Linked DNA regions of Homo sapiens. The protein of the gene in region 3 purifies or fractionates together with the protein of the main gene of each other region. This does not show direct contact. Each region holds a gene or a part of one and is shown on either strand. Other genes may lie near its edges.

Region 1 (3,500 bases), on a different chromosome or scaffold from region 3:
CCACGCCTGGCCAGTTCTTTTTTTTTTTTTCTGTGAGGCAGGGTCTTACTTTGTTACCCAGGCTGGAGTGCAGTGGCATAATCATGGCTTACTGCAGCATCAACTTCCTGGTCTCAAGTGATCCTCCCGCCTCAGCTTTTCAAGCAGCTGAGACCACAGGCACGCACCACCACACTCAGCTAATTTTTTTTTTTTTTTTAAGAAACAGAGCCTCATTATGTTGCCTAGGCTGGTCTCAAACTCATGGGCTCAAGTGATTCTCCTGTCTTTGTCTCCCGAAGTATTGGGATTACAGGCATGAGCCACTGCACCTGGCCCAGGAATTTCCAATTTCCTTTTCTGCTCCAGAGTTTAGTTCCTTATTGCCAGTTCATCTTATAGTGATTGAAATTCATATTTAGCAAAGATAGGGTGAAAGTTTTAAAATCTGACCTTTGCGATTTTTACCATCTACTGTTGATCTCCGTTTTGAACTTCCCATCTGAGTTTAAATCAGTCTTCTTGTGTTTTTTACCTTTAATTTTCTCTGTTTTAAAAACACTCTGTTTCATCTTCATTTAAATCTGAAGTCCAATTGCATAGTCTTGATCTTTACCCACAGAAGATTGCTATCTTTTCTCATATATTTTCTATTTTCTATAATCTCATTTGGCCTTTAATAATATGCTCTTTTATATTTCTGGTTAACTGTTCATGTCTGTATTTTTTTTTTCTTTCCAACTGAATTGTAAATTCCTTGAATCAGAGTTTTGTTTTTTTTTTTTTTGAGGTGGAGTCTGCTTCTGTCACCCAGGCTGGAGTGCAGTGGCACGATCTCGGCTCACTGCAACCTCCACCTCCTAGATTCAAGCAATTCTCTGCCTCAGCCTCCTGAGTAGCTGGGATTACAGGCACTCACCATCACGCCCGGATAATTCTTTTGCATTTTTAGTAAAGACGGGGTTTCACCATCTTGGCTAAGCTGATCTTGAACTCCTGACCTCGTGATCCACCCGCCTTGGCCTCCCAAAGTGCTGGGATTACCGGCATGAGCCACTATGCCTGGCCCAGAGTTAGTTTTTACACTTCTCTGTAGTTCCATGTTCAGCAGCTAGTATAATGACAGGAACATTTTAGATGATTGAAGCATTGACTGAATGGGTGTTATTATTTTGATATTTGTCTTTTTGGGATTTAAAAAAAAATTGATAATAAATATTACCAATAGAGCTTAAACCACCATGGAACGATCTTGGAAGGAACCTTTTCAAGTATTATATTGAAGAGATTAAGTAGATTGTTAGTTTTAATAGTTTACGATGTATTTTAATCTTATATTTAAAAAATAACATCTTTCTTTCTCCCCCACCCCACTTTCTTTCTTTTTTTTTTTTGGCAGCCGATTCGAAGACAGTCTCTTACACCTCCTCCTCAGAACACTATTACATGGGAAGAATATATATCTGCTGAAAATGGAAAGTAAGTTTTTTTCTTGTTTATGTGTTATTTGGTTTTTAGAAAGAATAATTTGTAAAAACTGAATATGTGAATATTTTGGCGTAAATTATTTTGGAGAGAATTATTGGTATATTTTTGACTGAAGCAATTCTTCTACCTTTTAAAAATATGGATTAAATATGATAAGGGCAAAGTGTCCCAAATTATGTACCCTCTTTGCAAATGGTTGTAGATCTTTCTGTATCCATCCTGTCAATTTATACACACCTAAAAAACTAAAAGACACTGTTCTAAGGAAATATGATATAGGAAATTGCGCAGGACAGTTGCTTATTTGAGATTTCCCATTGTATGATGAGCTTTTCTATTTTGTGATTATCCTGATTTTTTAGCATAGTGTGCAAGCCCATTCATTATTTATCTTCTTTTTGCCTTTCCAAGCTCCTCACCTGTCATTATCCTTTAGTTTCAACCTATGCTAGACTACTTCTCACTGTCCTTCCATAGGACCTTTGCTGATGTAATATTACTAACAGTAGAGTGCCTACCACATAGCTCATACTCAGTTTATATTTATTGACTAAAAGAATGATGAATGAATAAAGAAAGGGTTTATTTTTAATAAATAGATAAGTAAAAAGTGTATCCTGGCCAACCATTATTTCCTTTTGGTGGAGAATAAAATATAAAATATTGCTTTCCTGCTCCTGTTTAGGAAGAAGTTGTCATTTTTTTTTCTTATTGAAAGTTTTGTTATATTTTTCTGAATTCTCCAAGATGTTTCCATCTTAATATTTTTATAGTTTTTTTTTTTTTTTTTTTTTGAGATGGAGTCTTGCTCTGTCGCCCAGGCTGGAGTGCAGTGGGCGTGATCTCAGCTCACTGCAACCTCCGCCTCCCAGGTTCAAGCCATTTTCTCACCTCAGCCTCTCGAGTGGCTGGGAATACAGGTGCGCTCCACCATGCCCAGCTAATTTTTGTATTTTTAGTAGAGACAGGGTTTCACCATATTGGCCAGGCTGGTCTCAAACTCATGGGCTCAAATGATCCACCTGCCTCGGCCTCCCAAATGCTGGGATTACAGCTATGAGCCACTGCGCCTGACCTTAATATTTTATGGTGCTAAACAAAATTTATGAGGGTATTATTGTATTAGATTAGCCTCCTGCATGCACTAGGCACCAGCAGACCATACCAAACCAGAATGTAGTTACTTCTGCTAAGTACTACATAATTAAACTGAACTTTGAAATGGGCCAGTTTAAAATGAAAAAAAAAAAAGGACATTCCAGGCAACCTGAGTCAACATAGTAACTAAGTCTTCTGTTTTTTTAACTGTATAAGGAAAGCAACTTTGAAATAACCAGATCACCTTTTTTCCCCACCGTTTCCACTTCAGCCTTTTCAGTCTATAAAGATAACCTCCTCTTTTCAGCTTATTGGAACGCTCATTCTATTTTACAGAATTAGGTATTGTCCTGTGCTAGAGTTGCAAATAAAAGCCAATTAGATCTTTATGCTACATTGATAATTTTCTTTTGATAATAGTTAATATAGAATTCCTTATTCTTCACAATATTTCTTATTGATCAATGCAGAGGCTGTAATAGACAGTAAAGAAGATTGAATTGAATAAGTGACTTTAAAGATATACAATAATACCTTAAAAATTTTTTTACTAATGATTTTCTTTATTCCTAAAAATAGTGGTTATTAAAATTATATTCAATGTGAAATTAGTTTAGATCTAATAATTTCTGAACTTTTACTCTTTGCTATTCTTTTTTATTGCCCTTGTCTTAATTTCTTATACATATCTTATTCCCTTTTAGCATAACTTTATTTCTGTAGACAGAGTAAGAAAAATTGAAATATTAATGAATGTCATTGAAAGATGACAGATGCTTCTTAGGAAGGTGATAGACTATGGAAAAAGTTTCCTAACATTTTTTTTCCTCCCATTTTAGAGCTCCTCATCTGGGTAGAGAATTGGTGTGCAAAGAGAGTAAGAAAACGTTTAAAGCTACGATAGCCATGAGCCAGGAATTTCCCTTAGGGATAGA
Region 2 (3,500 bases), on a different chromosome or scaffold from region 3:
GAGACCTGCCTCTCGGGGACGCCTCACCAGTGCCCTGGCTGGGCATTTGTGCTGTTCCTACTCTGCAGTCACACGTGCTCTCACAAGTGGCCAGTCGCACCTATTGGGTATGGGTTTCATGTGTCTTAGTCCCCGAGAGCAGCACCCTTGAGAGAGATGTACGGCGTGTGCCAGTTTTGGGGCCAGATCCACCCCGCCACTCCATACGGCTGGCTAGACAGCAGTTACAACACGGTAACAGACAGAGCAAACACGTGCTACACAGCTGCAAGGGCCCGTCCTGGAAGAGCAGGAGCCTGCCCCGTCCCCACTGACCCTGCTTTGTGTTGCAGTTCGTGACCAGCTGCTCCAGACCCCCGCTCCTGGGATTCGCCTACCTCAAGCCTCCATTCTCCATCCGCTGCGTGGAGGTGTCGGACGATCAGGTACCCCCACGGGGTGGGTGGGGAAGAGCCTTGACTTCCCTCTTGGTGGTTGTCTGCTGTGCCCACTGTGCAAGGCCCTTATCTAGTCCATATCTCAGCAAGGCAGGCAGCTGGACCCCTCAGAGCCAAGTGAGGAGGGCCCCACAGTTCTCACGGCAGGAGAACCAGCCAGCCCCAGAGAGACTGCCCACGGACTCAGCCCTCTCTCGGCAGCCCCTTTCTCTTTCCTTCCTCAGGGAAGGGTACCTGGAGTGGGGGTGGGTACGTGCTGTTTTTAGTGGCGTCTGGCCTCACCAGGGCTCCAGATCTGAGGCAGCATGGGAGAAAGTGAGAGAGTGGGCTCAGGAGGCAGGCAGGCGCAGACTCGAATGCTACTCCTACCCCAGCAGGCTGTGCACGTCCAGGCTCGCTGCTTCATTTCCTCATTGGCCAAAGGAGAAGGAAAGCCTTCAGGGTTACGGAGCTCTGTGTGTCTCAAGCCTGGCCCACTGTGGGTGCTCAAATGAGAGTCCTACTCCCCATAAAAACCCAGTGGCCGCCTCTGGGTGTAGCTGCCTCTCATGATGCAGTTTGAGCCCGTGATGCCACCTTGTACAGGAAGCTACACAGTCCTCGGCCTCCATGCTTAAGGGAAAGTTGGCCCAAGTCATGGTCTGCCACCGGCCACAGCACCGGTGAGGAGGGAGGAGTGCATTCAGAAATGTTTGGGCACCTAACAGTTTTTACAGCATTCTACTTTTTGTCAATTGGTTAACCAGTAATTCGCTGTGAACCGGAAGGCCCCATTTCCAAAAGCTTACTTAGTGCAGGAATTCTCTGTGCAGGCCCCAGGGAGAAGGGGTTCCTTCTCTGGAAGCCAGTCGTCTTGTGTCTGGGGCTTGACCTCGGGTAGTGGTGCCAGGGCAGCGCCCTGCACTCTGCCCAGCATCCAGGGACTGGCCAGATCCCCTCCCTGGGCTCCCTGGCCTTGGCATCAGCCTGGGCTCCCAAACTAGGCCCTTCCCAATTCAAGGCCACGATGTGTGCCTTCAGGACACCGGGGACACTCTGGGCAGCGTCCTCCGGGGCTTCTTCACCATCCGCAAGCGGGAGCCAGGCGGCCGCCTGCCCACCTCCTCCACCTGCTTCAACCTGCTCAAGCTGCCCAACTACAGCAAGAAGAGCGTCCTCCGCGAGAAGCTGCGCTACGCCATCAGCATGAACACGGGCTTTGAACTCTCCTAGCTCCTGTCCCAGCCCTGCCTCCAGGGCTCCTGGGCTGCCAGGGACCTTCAGCTCCCAGAGGCAGTGTGGTCCTGGGAATGTGACCAACATGCCAGGTGACATTGGCCCCTAGACCCTCTCTATAGCCATGAGACTCCTTGTGGCCTCAAGAAATTTAGACGCCCACGACAGCACTACACAGCATCTCCAGGTGATGCCCAAGGCACAGGGCTGCAGAAAATAAACCTCCAGATTCCACCAACACGGGTCCATTCTTCCTGGTGATGGCAGAGGGGCTTCTTTTAGCTAGTTTGATCTTTTGGGAGTCTGTCTTTCCTTAGCCGTCTGAGTGAGCTGTGTATGAACAAGTCCCAGGAGTTCCAAGAGTCTAGAGTGGTTTTTGCAGCATGGGTTGAGTGTACAAAGCCTACTGTGCGTGAGATCCTCTCCTTCCGTTTCTGAAATCTCTTACTCAGGTAAGGCCTCGCCAAGCCTCTATGCACCCCACAAAGTTTCTGCCTCCATGCCGTCCACAGCGCCTCTTCCCAGACAGCCAGGCCCATCTGCTGCCCAGGGAAGCGCAGGCGCCTGCTAGGGACGCTATGGACACCGTGAGTCCAAGGCGCTGCTCCTGCCTTGAAGCCACGCGCTCCACGCCGCGGCCCTCCCATTTTCTGCGTCCTCAGCGGGCTGAGCTGCCAGAGAGTCTTCCCGGACCTATTCCCGTCCTATGCATTCACATTGGCATCCTGGTTTGGGGGAAGAAAAACAACGGCCCTTAGCAGCAGCCCCGTTTCCAGAATGTGCTGCCTGTTCCCCAAAGCCTGCTTGTCCCGCGGAGGACGGCTGCCTTTGACCCTGCTTATTTGTCTCACTGGTTATCTAATGAGGAACAAACACTAACCTAAGGTACACATCCCATCTGGGCGGTGGCTTCACTCCTGAGTCTGCAAAATCCCAGGAAACTTGGGTCTTGCTGCCCATCCTTCCTCAGCACAGGGAACCCGGAAGCCCGTTGCACTGACAGAGGCTCACACCCTCTGGGTTTTTTGTTTTTTTTTTAAACTTCATTTCTCTTCCAACCCATTGTGTTCCTCTGCCCTCATTCTTTACCTTTGTTGTAAGAACTTTAGCTCCAGGGAACTGAGGCAGAGGCCCTGTTTGTGGTCTGTGTTGACAGCCACCCACCCTCTCCCACCTCATGCTCCTGCACCTGCACCACCAAGGTTGATGCCGGATTCGAAGCCAGGAAGGCCCAGTCCCTCCTCTGCTCTCCTCAAAGACGCAAAACATTTTCCAACAAGAGCTGTCACAGTGGCAGCAAAGCAGGGGCCACCCGTCTCCACAGTCCTTCAGAGTTTCAGCTGCATCCTGGTGTCCCACCCAGGTCGAGCCCCCAGGCTTCTGGAAAAGAGTGTGTGCTCTACTTTGATGGAAACATGGCAAGGAATTTAAAGACAGGAATGTATTAATATTATTGAAGGTGTGTTCGTAACCTCTGATTCTGTGGACTTGCCACTTTCTCCAAACGCTCGGTTCCTTTGAAGATTTCTTCTGAACGTGTGTGCGCACGCTGGGCGGGTTCGTGCATACATGCGGGGACCCCAGACTGTCAGCACAGGGAAGATGGATCCCATCCTAATTTTTATCACCTGAAGGTTGGAACCAGTGAGGGACTGGGAGAGAGTGATTTATAAGCACCAATATCAACTTCATGTGGATTTTTGACAAGGAGGGGTAGTTTGTAATTTCATTTAAATTCTTTTCAGCAGCTGGAAATATTGCACTATCTGAAACACTGAATCTCCTTTTGTAACTGGTGTTCACTGACACCTTGATGGCTCTTGATGGCTCTAAAAAGTTGTAGGATTT
Region 3 (4,117 bases):
AAGATTGCATAAATTAATGAAATCAACAGATAACACCCATCTTCACTTTAACCCTTTCTCAGCTTTTCCCAACTGCAGCCTCCCCCTACACCTGACCCACTCAGTCCAGGCCCCCCAGCCCTGTCCTCCTGGCCCTGACTCAGCACCTGCCCCTCAACCACTGAGCAGTGCTGGCCACCCCCCACCCCGTTTGTTTGTTTGCAGCCTCTTTACAGTCTTGCGTGTGCTTTTCTAGGGAGTCTTAGCTCTGAGATCCCCAGAGCCCTGTCCATCACTGGGCTTCCATGACCTGGACAGGCAGCCTGGGGTCTGTGGTCCCACCGGCCCAGCTGTATGTGTATTTTGTGACTCTTTATTCAACAGGCAGCTCCCTGGCCCCCACGCCATGTTCCCTCTAGGTGCTGGGTGCTGATGGCGCAGAGAAGAGCAAAATAAAGTCCCTACCTCTGAGGAGGCATTCGGTACCCACAGGAAATTTATAAACAGATCTTTAGAATACAGGGCACGGAGTGTGCAGGAATGAGGAAGTGAGGAACACCAGCAACAGGAGACTGGGAGGAGGTGGTAGGGGCTAGGGCAGGCAGGTAAGGACGCAGAGCTGAGGTGAACAAAGGCGAGTGCCAACCTCTATCACAGAGCTCCCCGTCCCAGCCGTCGGTGCAAATGCACTGCCCGGGTTCTCCACAGAGTCCGTGAAGGCAGCCGGGAGAGGTCACGCACTGGTCACAAAGGGGACCCTGCCAGCCAGGCTGGCACCTGCAATGGGTGGGGGAGAAAGGTGGGGACATATGAAGAGGGCAGGGGTAGAGAGGCAGCTCAGGCTACTTTCTGTGGAACCAAGGACCCTTGGGGGTCTTTGCACAGTGGCAGCCGGTGGTCCTGGGAAGTAAACACCAGCCACCTGAATGGGAAAACTTAAAGAGAAAACATGCCAAGCTGAGGGGGCCGACTTGGAGGGGCCCCGAGATCCCGGGGGAGTGCTGCGTTTTGCCGCAGTGGCCTGCAGTGGTCCCACCTGCCCCCCCACCTCTGAGAACGCAGACAGGAGCTGTGGCTGCCCCCCCCCCGCCCCCCCCATCTCCCCAGCTCGCCCCACCAGTTTTCTGCAGGGGCCCGGAAGCTGTTTGCTGCAGCGTAGTGGCCAAGCCCCCTATTTTTTTCTGCCTGACTTCACGACTCCCCAGGCTTCTGCGTGGCCCCTACAAGCTGCCTCTGAGGAGCCACTCTATTACCTGCAAACATTGTCATCCTCGCAGAATCCATTTTGGGGGTTGCAGGCCGGGAAGCATTCAGCCCCTGAGGTACAAGAAAGGTTATACAATTCACCCCACCAGGCCCCAGGCCAAGGCAAAGGCTGTCTTCGCCCACACAGCCCACCACTGCCCTCGAGGGCACCAACAGCCCTCTTGGGTCCTACCAGCCTGGCACACAGTAGGCACTTCCTATCCGAGCATGGATGGGGCTCAGTGCACTCAGGAAAAACATCTCTGCCACGTTCCCAGCAATGAAATGACCACAGTACACTCTCCCTCGTTCTTAGGAGCAGGAGAAACACCTTCTCCTCGGACTCCCAAAAGCAAATACGACACCTCAAGTCCTCCTAACAGCGGGGACGGGGACCGTGGAGGGAAATATGTTGAGCCCTGGGCATGCAGCCTGACCGTCACTTTTGCAACCTGAGCTGAAAAGAGGAGCAGATTTTGAGGTGTTCAACTCCGGGAAAGCCCAGACAGGTTCACCTGGTGGGCGCCCCAGTAAGGCGTCTGCATTCTTTTTAAGGTTCATCCCTATTAAGCCGGGCACCCAGGTCAAATCTTCCCTCTTTCCCCTACCCCAGACTCTTCGCATTAAAAAAACGATGACGACACAGGGTTTTGCTTAGCGGGCTGAGGTTGCAACAACACTGCTTAGAGATTCTGACACTTTAACAGGCACCTACTGTGTGCATTTACTCAACCAGCTCCCCAGCTTTCTAGACAGCCCCCTTACAACCACTGGTGCAATGAGTGGGGGGGCGCTGCAGGAAGGGGGCAACTCTCTCGCTGTCAGAGACAGATGGCCGCTGCAGACAGAAGTGTCGCAGCCCCTCACCTACAGAAACGCGCCACGCAGGAAGGGCTCAGGCTGGGCTTCTCTGGGAATTGGGGGCTAAGACGGCAAAGTCGTCCCCCACTCCCGCCCCGAGACCTGTTCCAGAACGCTCACACAGGGACACCCCAAAGTTGCACCCCAGAGTATTTTCATAGAAGACTCCACAACAGCACCCCATTTTTCCATACCTCCTTGCTCAGCGCACCGACACCCCTCTGGCGCCACTTCTGCAGGGCGGGAAGGGGCTGGGGGTCTCACACATCCCCTGCGCCCTGGGACCCCTGGGACGGGCCTTGGCATGCGAGCGTGGTGGGTAGGGCGAGACAGGCACAGCGCGGGGCTTAGGGCTAGGCGGGACGGGCGGAGTTGGGGCTCACGAGACGGGGCGTGCGGGGCACCGGGCGGCCGGCGGGGAGTCGCAGGCTTCCCCAGAGGGGGCGCGAGCCGGGCCGCCGGGGAACTCACCATAGGTGCTGTGGCCGAAAGCCAGCAGGAGCAAGAGGACGCGCAGGAGGGCTTCGGTCGCGGTCATCTCTGGGCGGCCGGGGTCGCGGTCCCGGGAGCGGTGCGGGCGCGGGTCCGGCTCCTGGCGCCGCACTGGGCTTCTGGTTGCGGACGCGAAAGGGGGCGCGGGCGCGCAGCGAGGGGAAAGCCAGGGCTGCACCGGGCTGCGCGCTGCGCTCTCCACCGCCGCTGCCGGGGAGCTGCCGCCGCCGCCGCGCGCGCCGCCCTTTTCGTACCGCCTCCCCCCTCGCGGCCCCCGCCCCCCGCCCCCGCCTCCGTGCGCACGGGGCCGGCGCCGGCCAGTCCCTGTGACCCCCTCCCCTCGCAGGGCCGCCCCCGACCACGGCGGCGTCCCAGAAGCCCGCTCGCGCACACGGGTGCACTCTTGGCTAGACGGGCACAGGTATCCCGCGAGCGTTTGGTACACGTTCCCTCACACTGTACAGCACGCGGCCGCCGCGCACATACAGGCCTGCCTAGGACAAGTCGCAGGAATCGAACCTGGGCCGCAGACCTCCCCGGAGAGCACAAATCCGCACGCAGGAACACCGAAACACTTATCGCTGAAGTCCCGGGCACACGTGCAATGGTTAGATACCCAGGAAAACACAAAGGCGCACTATGAAGATGTGAACTAAGCACATAATTACACACGCACACAGAAAAACCCCCAGGAAAAGCCCGACGCCCCCTGTACCCCTGGCCATGAAGACGCAGAAAAATGCAGTTGCCCCGTGGCAACCCACACCCCGCAACGGAAACGCACACGGCAACTCAAACACACTGTAGCCCAGACGCCGTATAGACACAGTCCTAGGTGGCAGAGGGTCAAGCGGACCTGCGGTTACCCAACCATGGGCATCCTCCCCCATGTGCCGACCCCCTGCACACAGACGCTTACGCAGAGCCACCTGCACACCCAAACACGCAAACACACGTATAAACAGACGGACACCCGTGCCCGCATTCAGTCACACCCACCCCCGCACACACAGCATCTCAGTCAGGGCCTTAGCCGCGCTGAAACACAAATGCACCGACTCTTACGCACACATGTACGCACAGCCATGCACCTGATACCCACAAGCACACATACCCAGCTGACTCGTGGTCACACACACTGACAAAAACATATACGCAGTCCCCACACACACACGATCGCATCTGTCTTTGTCCACAGTGGCATGCATGGGCAGCCTCACCAATGTGCTCTCACATACACACAATAGCACTCCAGGCACTCGGCACGTATTCCAGACTCACTGGGAGACCTTCTCTGAGGGGTCGCCCGCTGGAGAGGTGGAGGTAGAGGATGCTGATTGCCAGAGACCCTCTTCCTCTGCAGAGCTCCCAGGGAGAGGGAGTGCTCCTCAGACACCCCTCCTCCCCATTGCCCCCGGCTTAGGCTTAGAGCCCTGCTGGAGAGGAAAGCTCTGCACCCCTGCACCCAGTCTGGATGGGGGAGGCTCAGAAAGATAGGGAGGGAGAGGGGTAGGAGGGGATTAAAGATATTTCACCTCCT
Region 4 (4,074 bases), on a different chromosome or scaffold from region 3:
AATGCCATGGGGTTTCTCTTCCATTTCACTGTCAAGGCCTGGCTCTCCCAGTCTCATCTGATGTCAAGTCACCACAAACAAGGGGCATGGTGGTCTGGTGGTTCAAGGGCAGTTAACTCTCAATTATTTGGGGGCTGATGATGAAGAAGATGGTTTGTACTTCACCTCCCTGGTCATTGCACTACTCCACAGTATCCACCAGTTTCCCTGTTTGCAGTTTTGACAAAGAGAACCAGTGAGCAAGGAAGTTAGAGCTAACATAGCAGCTAAGACTTGCAATGTTTGAGGATTTTATCTGAACATGCTGTCTCCTGTTCTAGGGTTAACCACCATAGTCTACATTTTATTTGTTTTTGTTTTTTTTGTTTTTTTTTTTTTGAGACGGAGTCTCGCTGTGTCGCCCAGGCTGGAGTGCAGTGGCGCGATCTCGGCTCACTGCAAGCTCTGCCTCCCGGGTTCACGCCATTCTCCTGCCTCAGCCTCCCAAGTAGCTGGGACTACAGGCACCCGCCACAATACCCAGCTAATTTTTTGCATTTTTAGTAGAGATGGGGTTTCACCGTGTTAGCCAGGATGGTCTTGATCTCCTGACCTCGTGATCCGCCTGCCTCTGCCTCCCAAAGTGCTGGGATTACAGGCGTGAGCCACTGCGCCCGGCCAATAGTCTACATTTTAATGTGCTCTGATCTTTACAGTGATTTTCAAACTTTTTGATTCCATGACTCTTTTTTTTTTTTTTGGAGACAGAGTCTTGCTCTGTTGCCCAGGCTAGAGTGAGTGCAGTGGCATGATCACAGCTCACTGCAGCGTCGACCTTCTGGGCTCAAGCGATCCTCTGGCATCCACCTCCCAAGTAGCTGGGAACACAGGCACATGCCACCATGCCCAGCTAATTTTTTTGGTTTTCTTGTCAGTGTGTTGCCCAGGTTGATCTCAAACTCCTGGGCTCAAGCAGTCCTCCCACAGCAGCCTCCCAAAGTGCTGGGATTACAGGCATTACTTTGACTCTTTTGAACCTTACTAGTGCCATTGCTTTAAATTTTTTTATTTATTTGTATTCTTTTAGTTATGCCTCAGGATCTAACTTTTTTTTTAAACTACCTCTTCAGAATACCAAGATCAGCTCTTCTTTTGCCAAAAGTACTATAAAGAGATACCACAGTGCCATTTCTTCTCTCTTCAATGGCTCTCAATCTTTTTCTGCCTCCACGCTGTTCCTGTATGCAACGCGTTCCTGTTAATAACATCTCTAATGACACTGTAATGGTTCCCAAAAACCAAGGAAGAGGCATACCTTCCTCTTACTCTGCCTCTCGCTGCCCTGAGAATCACTAAAATAATTTACGCCCCCAATACAGACAGAGACTACAATGAATATTAATACAAGAAGTCTGCCAGAGAACTACCTGCTGGCTTCTTAAAATTACTGAATGCAAACCAGGTATGAAGACCCTAGTCATTGCCAGGAAGCATAGGAGGATCCTACTTTTAATGCCCATCGCTTTTAATGCCCAGAGCCACCCTGCAAGAGCTCAGGGGAGTCAGGGAACTTGATCTCCTCAGGTCACACCTAGGAAACAACTAGGTCTAGCGGATAAAGAACTCAAGCCCCTGGACTTTCGGATTCTAGTTTGGCTCTAGGTGACCCTGGCCTTGCCTCTCCGAACAATCTCCACATCTGCAAAATGAAAATGTTAAAACTGCCCCCTCCCTGCTTCCATCTTCCAAGATTACCTGCGGAATAACAACTATGTCACTAAAGCTGAGCGTCTTGGATAAATCATGAGAAAAAGATCCTTCTCTCCAATGCATACACCCACATAGCAGAAGGAAAACAGATTCCATAACGAGCTCCCTCCTTTTTTCCCTCAAGAGCCACCGAAAAACTCAGGAGAGAGGGTGGGATGTAGCAGCACGTGACCAAGGCAACGCCAAAGTTTAGCCCGCGGTGACACACCAATGAAAGAGCGGGGCTTTGCTTGCATCTGGCGCTGGGCAGCGGGCAGGGGCCGCATCGTGGCATGCTAGGAACCAGGAGACCTGGGCTCCAGGGGTGTGCGGTACAGGAACGAGGGCATTCCACAGGAGTCACTTTATCCGATGGCATGGATGGTGAGCTTCCGAGGAGCCTGAAAACGCTTCTGGAAAGGCGGAAAGAAAAAAAAGCCCGCTCCAAACTGCAAGATCAGGGATGGCTGCCAGGAGCCCCTCGGCCGGCTCCATCCAGCTGGGGACGGCCGCGCGAGGACCCCGGGCGGCTGCGGAGAGCGCGCGCAGGCGGGACAACGGTCTTTATTTAGGTCGGGGATGAGGACTCCCAGGGGCCTCGAAATAAATACTCAGGGCGTCGGCGTTGGGAGCCCTCTGGGCCAGGGCCTAGGCACGACAGACCTGGGGCAGGGATTCTTTGTTGGCGAGAGGCTTTATTTCTGGCGAGAGACCCCACAATGGACCAATCCAGGGCTGAGAGCAAGAGTCTGAAGACTCGGGGGAAGGCAATGGTCAAGAGCTGGAGACTAGAGCCAGTCCCTGGACTCCCCCTCAGGAGGCATCCCCTTAAGCCGTTCTCTGGGTGCAGACCCCAGACTCCCCTTTCCTTGGCCAAGAATCCAAAGGACGCGCAAGGCCGAGCCCCACGCCCCCTTGCTCCCCACTTTCGGGCCACGGGCCTTCTCGTACTTACCGGGGCCCCGGGGCTGGTCTTCCTCGCCCGCGTCCTCTCCCCTCCCAACCCCCTCCTCACTTCACGTCCCCTCCTCCGGGGGCCGCAGCCATGTCCGTTACTGGCAACTCTAAGGGGGCTTGCCTCCCTTCCGGGCAACAGAGGCGCCGGCCAGAGAGCTAAAGTTCAGGCCACCGATTGGTCAGGATTTGAGAATAGGGGGAATTCTGGCTTCTTATTGGCTACGCGGCGTGCTAGGCTGTAGCTGCAACCGCCCCTCTGGGAGCCTGGCGGAATTAGGTGCCGAGTGATGCGGCCGGGAGAGTGAAGAGCCACTGTCCTTTCCTGTGCGTAAAGCTCAGGCAGTTTCTAGTCCAGAAACCCTGACCAGAGGGCATGGCTTTACCTCCGATTCGTTTTCCTACAGAATTATTCTAAAAAGATAGACGGCGCGCCCCACCTTTTTTCCCTTTCTTTTTAAAATAAGCCCTTTGCAGAGCTCCCCGCCTCTCTTAAGTTCTTCTAAGCTCCCTCCTTGTTGCCTTGAACAAATGCCTAGAGGCTGCCCGCTCCGAGAGGCCTTGGAGGGACTCCCTCAGGACGAATATTGCGTCCAAACCAAATCTAGAAAATCTAAGGCAATACTGCAATTCCCCCCTCCCGCTTCCAGCTCGGCTGAAATCTAAAGGGAAAAACAAGTTAAATTTTTTTTCTAGGTAATTAGATAAATCGCCTGGGAGACCTCTCTTGGGAAAACAAAGCAAGCCTGTGTCAGTATTTACTTCTCTTTTCCCAGAGATCTAAGTCTGGAAGGCTTGTTTAAAAAAAACAAAAACAAAAAAACAAACAAAAACTTGTTTATATAATTGGGAAAGAGCTGAGGTTGGCCTTGTGAAGTAAGAGCCCCTTCCCACATTCATGAGTTTAATTACGTAATTAAAATCCCTTTCTCAGCTGGACAAGAAGATGGCATTTTAGTACCTAATCTTGTATGACCCAGTTTAGCTGTTGCCTAAAACGCCATAAGAATCATGTCACTAACCTGCACACAAAAACTGATAGTTCACCTTTGCAAATAGGTCCAAATCTTTCTGCCTGATGTTCAAAGTCCTTCATAAATTGACTCAGACATACGTTTCCAGGTCTAAGTCCCCACAGGCTAAACTATTCCTGCAGCCACATAGATTAACCACCATTCTTTAAACGTGACAGAGACCTTTCCACCTCTGCTCCTTCGTCACATGGTTGGTTCCCTACGCTTTGCTTTAAAGGTTCTTTTTTTCTTTTTTTTTTTGAGACGGAGTTTCGCTCTTGTCGCCTAGGCTGGAGGGCAATGGCTTGATCTCGGCTCACTGCAACCTTCACCTCCCGGGTTCAAGTGATTCTCTTGCCACGGCCTCCGGAGTAGCTGG

Evidence for each region. The genes of interacting proteins can lie anywhere in the genome.
Region 1: the proteins of DLK1 (region 3) and ANKRD13C purify together in Homo sapiens (affinity purification with mass spectrometry; 4 studies listed by BioGRID and IntAct, with this or other methods). This does not show direct contact.
Region 2: the proteins of DLK1 (region 3) and UBE3B purify together in Homo sapiens (affinity purification with mass spectrometry; 4 studies listed by BioGRID and IntAct, with this or other methods). This does not show direct contact.
Region 4: the proteins of DLK1 (region 3) and TMEM94 purify together in Homo sapiens (affinity purification with mass spectrometry; 4 studies listed by BioGRID and IntAct, with this or other methods). This does not show direct contact.

The regions. Positions count from the first base shown.
Region 1 is NC_000001.11:70,274,723-70,278,222, reverse strand, and holds part of ANKRD13C (ankyrin repeat domain-containing protein 13C), read left to right. Parts: intron 1-1,378; coding exon 1,379-1,458; intron 1,459-3,404; coding exon 3,405-3,500. UniProt on the Homo sapiens protein: Acts as a molecular chaperone for G protein-coupled receptors, regulating their biogenesis and exit from the ER.
Region 2 is NC_000012.12:109,533,134-109,536,633, forward strand, and holds part of UBE3B (ubiquitin-protein ligase E3B), read left to right. Parts: intron 1-332; coding exon 333-425; intron 426-523; coding exon of another isoform or gene 524-703; exon of another isoform or gene 704-811; coding exon of another isoform or gene 812-931; exon of another isoform or gene 932-1,457; coding exon 1,458-1,649; 3' UTR 1,650-3,500. UniProt on the Homo sapiens protein: E3 ubiquitin-protein ligase which accepts ubiquitin from an E2 ubiquitin-conjugating enzyme in the form of a thioester and then directly transfers the ubiquitin to targeted substrates.
Region 3 is NC_000014.9:100,725,575-100,729,691, reverse strand, and holds the start of DLK1 (protein delta homolog 1 isoform 1 preproprotein), read right to left. Parts: upstream 2,801-4,117; 5' UTR 2,624-2,800; coding exon 2,557-2,623; intron 1,297-2,556; coding exon 1,233-1,296; intron 757-1,232; coding exon 626-756; intron 1-625. UniProt on the Homo sapiens protein: May have a role in neuroendocrine differentiation.
Region 4 is NC_000017.11:75,455,361-75,459,434, reverse strand, and holds the start of TMEM94 (transmembrane protein 94), read right to left. Parts: upstream 2,801-4,074; 5' UTR 2,684-2,800; intron 2,142-2,683; exon of another isoform or gene 1,958-2,141; intron 1-1,957. UniProt on the Homo sapiens protein: Could function in the uptake of Mg(2+) from the cytosol into the endoplasmic reticulum and regulate intracellular Mg(2+) homeostasis.